Regions from separate parts of the Homo sapiens genome. Here region 2 is linked to region 1. Evidence: fine-mapped expression QTL. A gene starts in region 1. The other region holds a variant in brackets. All regions are shown on one strand. Distances are between the middles of the regions.

Region 1 (5,364 bases):
CCTCACCCAAATGGGGGGCCATAAAAATACAGAGCTCAAGGTAACCCCCAAGCTCTGCCTCACCCCTTCCGCCAGCTTCTCACTGCCCCTCATCCTTTCCATCTGCATTTATGAAGCACCCATTATGATATGAGCTCAGCACCCAGCTAGGCCCCTGGGGGTGCAGGGGTGCATGCAGGAAGTGAGCCATACTGAGGATTCTGTGGGGGTCAGCCTGGCAGCTGGCTCATCCAGAGTGTTGCTGGGAATATGGCAGGGGGGCTGGATGGTGGGGAGGGGTCCCTGCCCAGGATATAAGGCTCTCTGACTCTCCTTGAAGCAACCATCCATCTACTGGTGGCTCTCAGCTGTGTCTGGCCTTGGCCTGGGTGCCTCCAGGGAAGGACATTCTCTGACCTGCGATCACTCCCACCCCAGAAACCATTTATTTTACCTAGAGGCCCAGAGAAGGAAGTCCACACTCTCAAGGTCACACAGCAACTAACTCAGGGGCTGTGTTGCCTGAGTCCACCCAGCCGGCACAAGACACAGGCTTCCGGCAGACGAGGCTGCTCCCCAAACACAATTCACCCCGGGCAGGACTGCCCTAACCTCTCCAGGTACCACAAACCCACCTCAAGCACTTTCTCCTAAGCCAGCCTCCTTCCTCCAAGCACAATGCCAACAAATACACTAGTGGCCTTCAACTCTCTCCCTTTAAGAGTCTCAAGCCCAGGCCGGGTGCAGTGGCTCACACCTGTAATCCCAGCACTTTGGGAGGCTGAGGCGGGCGGATCACAAGGTCAGGAGATCGAGACCATCCTTGCTAACATGGTGAAACCCTGTCTCTACTAAAAACACAAAAAAATTAGCTGGGCGTGGTGGCGGGCGCCTGTAGTCCCAGCTACTCGGGAAGCTAAGGCAGGAGACTGGTGTGAACCTGGGAGGTGGAGCTTGCACTGAGCCGCGCCACTGCACTCCAGCCTGGGCGACAGAGTGACACTCTGTCTCAAAAAAAAAAAAAAAAGAGTCTCAAGTCTTAGGGCAGGGCGTGGTGGTAAAAGCCTGTAATCCTAGCACTTTGGGAGGCTGAGGCTGGTGGATCACCTGAGGTCAGGAGTTCGAGACCAGCCTGATCAATATTGTGAAACCCCGTCTCTACTAAAAATACAAAAATTAGCCGGGTGTGGTGGTGTGTGCCTGTAGTCGCAGCTACTCAGGAGGCTGAGTCAGGCGAATTGCTTGTACTCAGGCAGCGGAGGTTGCAGTGAGCTGAGATCTCGCCACTGCACTCCAGCCTGGGTGACAGAGCAAGACTCCGTCTCAAAAAAAAAAAAAGTCCCAAGCCTCTCCACACCTCACCCCTAACAGGAGCCCACTCTCTCCACACCCCCTGCTGGGGATGAAAGGCCATCCCTCCCCTAGCATCGCAGCTCAACCTTTGCTAGGTGCCATGGAGTGAAGTGGATCCTGCCTGCCTTTCCGGGGGGCTTCCCTCACTCCCCAGCTGTAGCTGGGCAGTAGCCCTCTCCTGGGACCACTCATCTGGCCCAGGGGGCACAGGAGTACAACCTGTCCCCCATTCTGGCCACATTTCCTCCACGACCTGGTCTTTCCCGGCCACGGGGAAGAGGAAGTGTTTGCCCAACTCCACAAAAACACCACAACCTTTCTGCACATACAGGGCAGGGGTCCCACATCAGATGGGCCAGGAACTGCAACTGCCCCTGAGAACCAGTGGCCTGAACAGACACAGCCACTGGGGCCACTAATCCAGGACCCAGAGTCTCTGCTACCCCACTCCAGGCTGCGGGGCCGGGGCGGGGGGGGTTCCCACTCCACACCTCTGAGAGCCTCCGTACTTCCAGAGCCCCACAAGGAGGTTCTGCCCTCAACTTGGGAGCCACCCTGGCAAAGACCCAGCCCCTCTTTCCCAGCTACACTGCTTTCCAAGAGTTCATCCAGCGAAGGGGTTGAGGGACAGGTTGGGAGGGTGGGCTGGGGGTCCTTCCTCTAGGTGCATGCCCCAGAGTCGTGCACACTCTTCCCCACACCCCAACTCTTCTCACTTGCGCTCCTGATGAGCTAAGAGGAGTTGACGCTGTCACCCCGGGACGGTCGGCTGCCCACCCTTCGCACCCTGCACCCCGAGAGACACCCCCGACCCCTCCCCCGGAGTCTCCTGGCTGCAAGTCGGCTCGCCTGCAGGCAGGGCGGGGGCGCACAGCACCTCCGGGTGGCGGCGCAGACCCGGCGGGGACCCCCGAAATCCTCCCGTCCCGGGAGGCGACCGCGGCCCAGACCCAGCGCGGGACCGCGAGCGCGCGCGGACCTACCCGCTCCACATCCCGGCGCCTCGGGGCGCCCAGGCGTCCGTTCCCAGCGCCGCCGCGTCCTCCCAGCGCCGCGTCCCCGCCCGCCGCCGACTCCGCCAGGGGCCGAGCCGCCCCACCGCCTGTCAGCCCTGCCCGCGGCCGGTCAGTAGGTCTCAGACGCCTGGGCTCGCGGCCCCCAGCCCAGCCCCGACCCTGCCCTGGGCGGGTCACGTGGCGGAGGGGGGAGCGGCCCGAGGACACGTGCCCGGCCCCGCCCCTCCGCCGGCCCGGCGCTGGGATCCGGCGCGCGCTCCCAAGGCCTGGCCCCACCCGGCCCGCCGCGCCGGGACAGGGAGACCACGGCGCTCGGAGGGAACCCGGCCCCCAACATCCCGCGGGCCGCGCCGCGCTCAGACTCCCCAGCTGACTCCTCCTCTCCAGTCGCCCTCCGCACCACCCACTTTGGGCCACCCCTGCTCAAGAACCTACAATGGCTCCCGAGCTCTCAGCTCTTCGATTCTCACACAGATTGTCACTTAAGGCCAGCAGACACCCTCCCCCCTCCTCACCCGGCCCTCCTTCCCTAGGCTGTCTGCTTAGTGCCTGTCCCTGTGCAACATCCTGCCTGCTGGGAAGGGGAGGGGACAAACCCGAAACAAGTTTTCTGAGTCCTACTCTCTGAGTTTTATCCCGAAGGAGTTTCCACTTCTGGTCCAACTCTCCTCACTCAGCCTCCTGCCACTTAACACGCTCTGCCCATCCCTGCCTTTACTCACCATCTGCCCTCTGGATAGTATTCCCCACCCCACCCCCACCGACACACACACATACACACACCTGTCTGGTCCCACATCCTCCGTGAAACCTTCCCTGAATCCCAGACGACTGGTCTACCTGTCCCTCAGTTCCTCTGTCCCACCCATTCTGAGTCCTGATCATTCGTCTCAACTTCAGCCTGGGACTGGACCAGTAAGAGCAGAACCCGTCTTCTCTCCCGCCAGGTACCATGGCTCCCACCTTCCCTGTCTAGGGGAGGACTGGGAGCGTGGTGGGAGGTACTTCCCCTTCTAGGTGCTACCAGAGGTCCCAGTGCTACCCCTCCAGGCCCACTGACTCAGGCCGCAGGCTCAAGTTAGTCAGATCTTCGTTTGAGGATACATTTTATTCATTCATTCTACTCATTCATACATTCAGCCACTCCATCTGAGCATAGACTATGGGGCATGCAAGGGGCTGGGGACCCAGCAGGAAACTGTACAGACATAGGTTCTGCCCTCCTGGGGCTCCACGTTGGTGGAGGATGGAGGATGGGGGACGTATTCTCTAAGACCTCCACGTCCAGGGCACAAATAGACAATGCTCTTTCCCCGCTGGGCACAGCGCACAGCAAGGTATGGAATCTGGAGAGTGGAGGCGAGGCTGGATTCTATGCCTTGCTTGCTCCCTTGGCCAGCACTTTGTGCAGTGAACAACCTAGGCAGTTCTCCATAGCATCCCTTCCAACTTTCTAGAATCATTCAGCCCAGGCGTCCCATAGCCATCACTCAGCAGGGCAGTTGTTTCCATGGCCACGGCTTCCAGAGGGCAGGGATTCTCTCTTTCTTGGAGCTATGTTCCCCTACCCCACCCCCAGCCCAGCTCAGGGTCTGGCCCACCCAAAGCAGATGTCCACATGTGTTTGCTGGCTTGAATCCCTCATCAGTTGGTCTTGAGCAACTGTTGTCTTCCTGGCCCTTATTTTGTTCACTATTTAGAGAAGGAGGAGAAAATGACACAAAAGGAACCCAGCACAGGGCCCTTGCCCTCCAAGTCTTCACAAGCCCCGGCAGGAGATAAGTCATGGCAACCCAGACCAGTGGGAGATAAAGGGTGGAGGAGGCGTCAGCTCAGGGCTATGTCCCTGGAGGAAGAGTCCTCAGCCTGGGAGGTCTGGTGGACCGGGGAGGCCCTTGAGCGAGGTCTTGAAGGACAAGTCTGTGGTCACCACTCTGGAAGCATCCACACTCAATTTCTAACCAAAAATAGCCTGTCATCCATGCTTCCTGCTACCATGGACTCCTAGGGCTCACTGCCTCCCCCAGTAGGGAGGACCCTCCTGCTCAGCTGAACTTGCTCCTCAGTTGAAAAGGATGGGCTCGGAGAAGTTAAGGAACCTGCCTGATATCACACCAGCCAGGGGCAGTGGGGCTGAGTCCTCTTACACCCGTTTTCCAAAAAGACCACCCAGAAACTAGAGGCTCACTGGCAGCTGCAGCTGTGTGCAGCCAGGCAGCAAGAGGTTCCTGAGCACATGCTAGGTGTCTGGCCAGTGGCAGGGAAGGGATAAATAAAAGTTGTGTCCTCTGCCTACAAGCCACTGCCCTCCTCAGCCTCCCTCCCTCTATCTCCCTCTGCCTGCTCCATCCCAAGCCTGGCAGCCTTGACCACAGACCCTTGGCTGAAGGCAGCTGAGGAGCAGGAGACAGTCAGCCTGGACAACCCAGGCCCTGATTCTGGACTTACAGGTGTGTCCTCAGCTCACTGTGTGACCCAGGATGAGTGTCTTGCCCTCTCTGAGCTTCAGTCTCCACCTCTGTACAGCCACCAAATTGGACAAGACAATCAGAGCCATTGCCTAGGACTCTCTGAGCCCAGCTTCTCACACTGGCTGCCCTGAAGCTTGCCAAGACTCCCCCTCCCCTCCATGCCCCAGGTCCTGAGCTCACCTGTCTGTGCCCCAGGGCTCTTCTCTCAAGTTCCCCTCAAGTACAGGGCACAGGCCTGATGGGGCGTAGCGGACAGTCCCTGCACTCATGGCCAGGAACACGGGACATGTCCCTCGGGCGGGGCACCCAGCGTGCTCCTCAGAAGAGTCCATGCTTGCAAGGCCAGACTGAGGGTCCCTCTGGAGGGTGCCGGGAAGGGAGGTAGCAGGAGCCTTCTTCCCCCCACCAGGCTGAGCCTCACACTAACCTTTGCTATCTCCCCAGAGCAGCAGCCTGGGAGGGAGGCACCACCTCCCAGGACAGCCGCTATCTCCTTCAACCCCGTAATTATTAACTCCTGTGGCTCCTCAGGCAGCAGAAGACAC
Region 2 (5,364 bases), 61 kb before region 1:
GCCCCGCCGCCAGGGCTGGCTGCACTCCCTCCCTTGCCCCTGGCCTGCGTCTCTGCCTGTCAACCGCAGCCTGGGAAGGCACTGTTGCTGATCAGGGGGAGGTCCATGTGTGCCACCCACACCCTTGGCCGCAGCCCAGCCAGGTGAAAGTCATGTGTCTTCCTTGCCTCTTGGGCTTTCTCTGTGTGTGTGACGGGGACTCCTCTGGAGGAGGAGATGTGTGGGGTCCTCCACTCCCCACACTTGGGGCTCTGAGCCCCCAGTTGGGAAGAAGCCTGACTCTTGTTGAGTGAGTCTGTGGACCGGGCACTGTGATGGGCAGTGTGCGTGCACAACGTCACTTAATCCTTGCTTAACCCGTGAGGCGGGAGCTGTCATCGACCCATTTCATGGATGGAACAGCTAAGGCCAAGAGACATGAAGTGACTTGTTCAAGGTAACAGCAAGGAAAAGGCAACACCACTGTCCGAACCCAAACCATCTGGCTGCAAACCACAGCTTCGGAGTCCTGGGGGCCCTTGTGAAATATGTTTGTTGGGTAGCCCCAGCTTTCTGATCAATTAAACAGCCAGGCACTCACCCCCCTAGCTTGCTACATTCTAAAATACCTCTCCCTCCCTTCCCTGGTCCCATGACTTAAACGGCAAAGCTCTGGCAAAGAACTGAGCGTGGGAAAGATGAGAGCAGAGAGTTAGCCACAGGGCAGGGCTTCGTATCCCAAACCCACAGTTGTACTTTCTGGTTTGGGAGGGGAGTATTGGCCATCCCCCAGCAGAGCCGCTGCAGCTGAGGCCATCGAGATGGGCACAGATGTGTAGTGGTATGTCACCATACGCATGTACATACACGTGCGTGACTGTGATGAGCATTTTGCTCACCGTCCCACAGAGGCCCACTCTGAGGCCTGCTGCTGCCTGGCAAGCAGGACCCCCTGGCTCCCGAGGGTCATTCTGGGGCATTGAAGGGACGCACACTAAAGCCAGCAGTGCTTACCAGCAGAGGCAGCCCCTGTAACCTGTGTTGTCCACCCACAGGCCACCATCACCCATGAGAACAGGGTGCCTACTGTGCACATGCAGCTCCAAACAGACTCCCCAGGTGCCTCCCAGGCCCCCACAACAGCGTGGCCAGCCCTCAGTCCCTCCATAGGATGCCCTGGCCCCTGCTGACCTGCCTGGGTTGCCCTCTGTGCTCACTTCCGAGTACAGCCGGCCCAGCCCGAGAGGGATGGGATGCTCTGTGGGACAGAGATGCGGTGGGGAGGAGCTCTTGAGCAGAGCTGGAGACACTGCATGCCAAGGCTGGGGCTATGAGCCTGCTCCCTGGCCTCTGGGAGAAGCTTAGAGCAGGACTCAGGGGCCTGTTCTGTGGGCCACTGCAGGCCCCGAGACTGGCCACCTCGAGAGCAACGTCTGCAGTGCTGGCTCCTCCAGCAACTCCGTCCACTGGAGACTCATGAAAGGCTCCTGTGAGGCCTCCCTGGCTCGGACCTCTCCATGGCCGGCCTCAGCCCTGGCCTTAATAATAGTCTTCCTGCAAGTGGCCGTCCTTTCTGGGAATGAGTGAGATCCTTGCCAAGGCTCAGGAGGCCACACAGAACAAAGGGACTGTTTCTGGGGGTTCTTCAGCTGGTTGTGCCGTGACCATGGCCATTGGCGCCAAGATGCAAGCCTTGGGGACAGGGTGGACCTGGTTCCCACCCACAGCCTCTTCCCTCAGGAATCCATGCTCTCCCTGTGATTTGGACAATCATTTTACTCACCTGGATGAGAGGGGCACTGGCCTAGGCATCATCCAAGGTCCCTTCCCTCTGTAACTCACTTTGACCTCCTGACTGCAATAAGTATGACTGGACACTATAGGAGGAGGCATCTCTGGCCTTCGGATCCAGGGGTATAGGGAGGGTGACGGGCAGTGTCCTGGGGTCAGCACTTGGCATTATGCCCATGTTCTCATTGGCTCCTCTTACCAACCACTGATTCAAATGCCAGACAAGGCTCAGCAAGGCTAAGCGACTCACATAGTCTCAGCACTGGTGAGAGGCAGAGTCGGCTCAAGCGCATCTGCTGGCTGCAAGCCCAGCCTCCCCACACTGCAAGGGAGAGGAGCAGGTGTCACTCAGTGAGCGGCATCTTTTGGTCTCAGTCCTGGAAGTGCAGGGTGGGCTGGTCCCTAGGGGCTGGACCATGGAATTAAGGGCTCCAGGGATCCCCTGGGGCCGTGGTTCCTATGCCTGGCATTGGACAATGACGATGCCCAGGACCCAGCCCAGCCCTCCTCCATTAGAGCCTCTGGGCATCAGGCTGCCCAAGGTGCAGGCTCT[G/A]ATGGGGAAGAAACCGGTGCCGTCATGGGGACCTCAGGTAGCCAGATGTGGCCTGAGGAGTCTGTGCTGTGGCCTCCTCTGTCCTCAAGGTTAGGCTCCAGCTGGGGAGGAGTGATTCACTCTTGTAAATTACAGGGAGGCTCCAGGGAGGCAGATGCTCCCAGCCTGATGACTGGCAGCAATTCTGGGGCCCTTACCTAGGTTCTCCCTGCCACTGCGGGCTCCGGGAGCTCTCCATGGTGACCTAGGAACTCCCCTGGGTGCTTATGCTCCGCCGAGAGTTGCTCTGTTGCACATTCATTCAACAAACATTTGTTTAGTGCCTGTCACATGGGCTCAGAGTCAGCTTTTTGGGTTCTGATCCCAGTCAGGGCCACTTCCTGTGGCCTTGGGCCATGGCTTAACGCTGAGCCTCAGCCTCAGAAGTGCCGGCCTTGTAGAGGATCGATGCCATCGGGCCAGTGCTCGGCTAGGGCTGAGGAAGCGTTGGCCGCTGCTGGCTGTAGCATGGGGAGCCCAGAGGGCTGGAGGGGCCCCAGGCTTGGTGGGCCCAGGGTGCAGATTGACAGGAAAGGGACAGTGGTGTGCCCTGAGCAGATAGAAGGGATGGTGGCTGCAGGATGGGTTGGGGAACATGGGAGGCTGGGAGCTGAGGCTACTGGGTGCTCATGATCTCTCCTCTCTCCTCAGTACGGCAAGAAGAAGCTGAAATACCTGCCCTACAATCACCAGCACGAATACTTCTTCCTGAGTGAGTGCTCGGCGCCCCGAAATCACTCTGGGACCCTCCCCTCCCCCCAGAGTGGCGTGTCTCTCCCTCCTACCTGACATCTTTTTCAGATCCAGAAAGTGACACTAAACTTGTTAGAAGCGGGGGCCACAGCAGCCTTGCTGTGCAGACCCCTCAGCCTGTGTTACAGGCCTGATGGGGACACAGAGGCTCAGAGAGTCCCAGGGGTGACACACGTCCTCAAGGGCTCCCAGCCTTCTCTGCAGGCCCCGGGGTCCCTGGCTGCTTCTGCCCACGTCTGCAGGGCTGGCCCCTGCACTCAGTGCTGGGCCTGGGTTCCCCTGACCTTCCGGCACAGGCAGGGTGGAATGGATGCCTCTAAGCGCCTGTCTCTCTCCTGCAGTTGGGCCGCCGCTGCTCATCCCCATGTATTTCCAGTACCAGATCATCATGACCATGATCGTCCATAAGAACTGGGTGGTGAGTTGGGGACACAGCTGGCTTGGCATGGGGAGGAGGGTGACTGGGACAGGGGGACCCGGGGGTCCTACGCTGCCTCCTCGTGTGCCCCAGTGGAGCCTGTGGGGCCCCAGGCATCTCCTCCCTGGGGTAGCTGCCTCTCAGGAAAGGACTCCCTCTGGGGCCACCAGGACCTAGTCCTAAAGATCTCTACTCTCCCTCAGACATAGGGAGTCCACTGGGGCAGCCCCTGCTTTTGCAGAGCCCCCGAGAAAGTTCTCAAAGGCAGCAGGATGAGAGGCAAGTGTGGCCATCTCCCTTCCCCGCTCCCTGTGGGCCCTGAGTCCCATGAACTGGGTTGCCCCACACCCTGGTTTGAAGTTGGAGCAGCTGGGCGTTGGCTGAGATGACAGGTGTGGTCGTTTGCGAAGACCGTATGACAAAGCACCACGAACTGAGTGGCATAAGCAGCAGCGATGTGTTTTCTCCCGGTTCTGGAGACCGGAAGTCCAAAACTGAGGTGTTAGCAGGGTGGATTCCTTAGGGCTCTGGAAGGCTCTGTTCTGGGCCTCTCATCGGCTGGTTGATGGCTTTCGTCCTCCCTCTCGGTACATCATCTCTCTGCATATTTGTATCTGTATCTGTGTCCAAATATCCCTCTTTAAAAAAATTATTTTGTTTATTTGTTTATTTATTGAGACAGAGTCACATAGGCTGGAGTGCAGTGGTGTGATCTCGACTCAACTGCAACCTCTACCTCCTGGGTGCAAGCAATTCTTGTGACTCAGCCTCCCAAGTACCTGGGATTACAGGCACCGGCCACCATGCCCAGCTAATTTTTGTATTTTTAGTAGAGATGGGGTTTTTCCATGTTGGCGAGGCTGGTCTCGAACTCCTGGCCTCAAGTGATCTGCCCGCCTCAGCCTCACAAAGTGCTGAGATTACAGGCATGAGCCACCACGCCTGGCCTATTTTTTAATTTTCTTTTTTTCTTCACCAAAAGTGGATTCTTGAAAATTTTTCCTTTTTTTTAAAATAGGGACATTGGTCATATTGCATTAGGGCCCATTGTAATTACGTCATCTTTTTTTTTTGAGATGGTGTTTCGCTCTGTCGCCCAGGCTGGAGTGCAGTGGTGCGATCTCGGCTCACTGCAACCTCCGCCTCCTGGGTTCAAGCGATTCTCCTGCCTCAACCTCCTGAGTAGCTGGGAGTACAGGCGCCGGCCACCATGCCTGGCTAATTTTTGTATTTTTAGTAGTGATGGGGTTTCACCATGTTGGCCAGGCTGGTCTCGAACTCTTGACTCGTGATCCACCCGCCTTGGCCTCCCAAAGTGCTGGGATTACAGGCGTGAGCCACTGCACCCGGCAGATAAATTGTTTATCTGAAAATTATCAAAGACTAAATTGTCACTTTCTGAAATGCTTGCTTAAAATCCAGTCTTTCTCAGCAGTCTATTTGTCCCTCATGCTCCAACCAATAGCCATGGGGAAGTTTTTCCTCTCTTAACCAAATGTGGACTTGTTTATTGATTACTGTTTTTTGTTTGTTTGTTTGTTTTTGAGGTGGAGTTTCGCTCTTGTTGCCCAGGCTGGAGTACAATGGCGTGATCTCGGCTCACCGAAACCTCTGCCTCCTGGGTTCGAGTAATTCTCCTGCCTCAGCCTCCGAAGTAGCTGGGATTACAGGCATGCGCCACCATGCCCAGCTAATTTTGTATTTTTAGCAGAGACAGGGTTTCACCATGTTGGTCAGGCTGGTCTCAAACTCCCAACCTGAGGTGATCTGCCCACCTCAGCCTCCCAAAGTGCTGGGATTACAGGCGTGAGCCACCGCGCCCGGCCTGTTG

The links. PIP is the estimated chance that this variant, and not a neighbour inherited with it, causes the effect. A credible set is the group of variants that fine-mapping cannot tell apart.
Region 2: its variant is the best candidate, but not a certain one, in a credible set for the expression of RAB3IL1 in whole blood (INTERVAL, PIP 0.68).

The regions. Positions count from the first base shown.
Region 1 is chr11:61,915,042-61,920,405 of GRCh38, forward strand. RAB3IL1 (RAB3A interacting protein like 1) reads right to left here and starts at 2,525. Exons shown (of 10, transcript NM_013401.4): 1 at 2,316-2,525. The coding sequence starts at 2,326.
Region 2 is chr11:61,853,998-61,859,361 of GRCh38, forward strand. FADS2 (fatty acid desaturase 2) reads left to right here. Exons shown (of 12, transcript NM_004265.4): 6 at 3,014-3,074; 7 at 3,457-3,533. Among named protein-coding and RNA genes, the nearest start is that of MIR6746, 22 kb to the right of the region's middle. RefSeq lists an enhancer at 2,996-3,497. The variant G/A (reference allele first, on the strand shown) is at 2,324.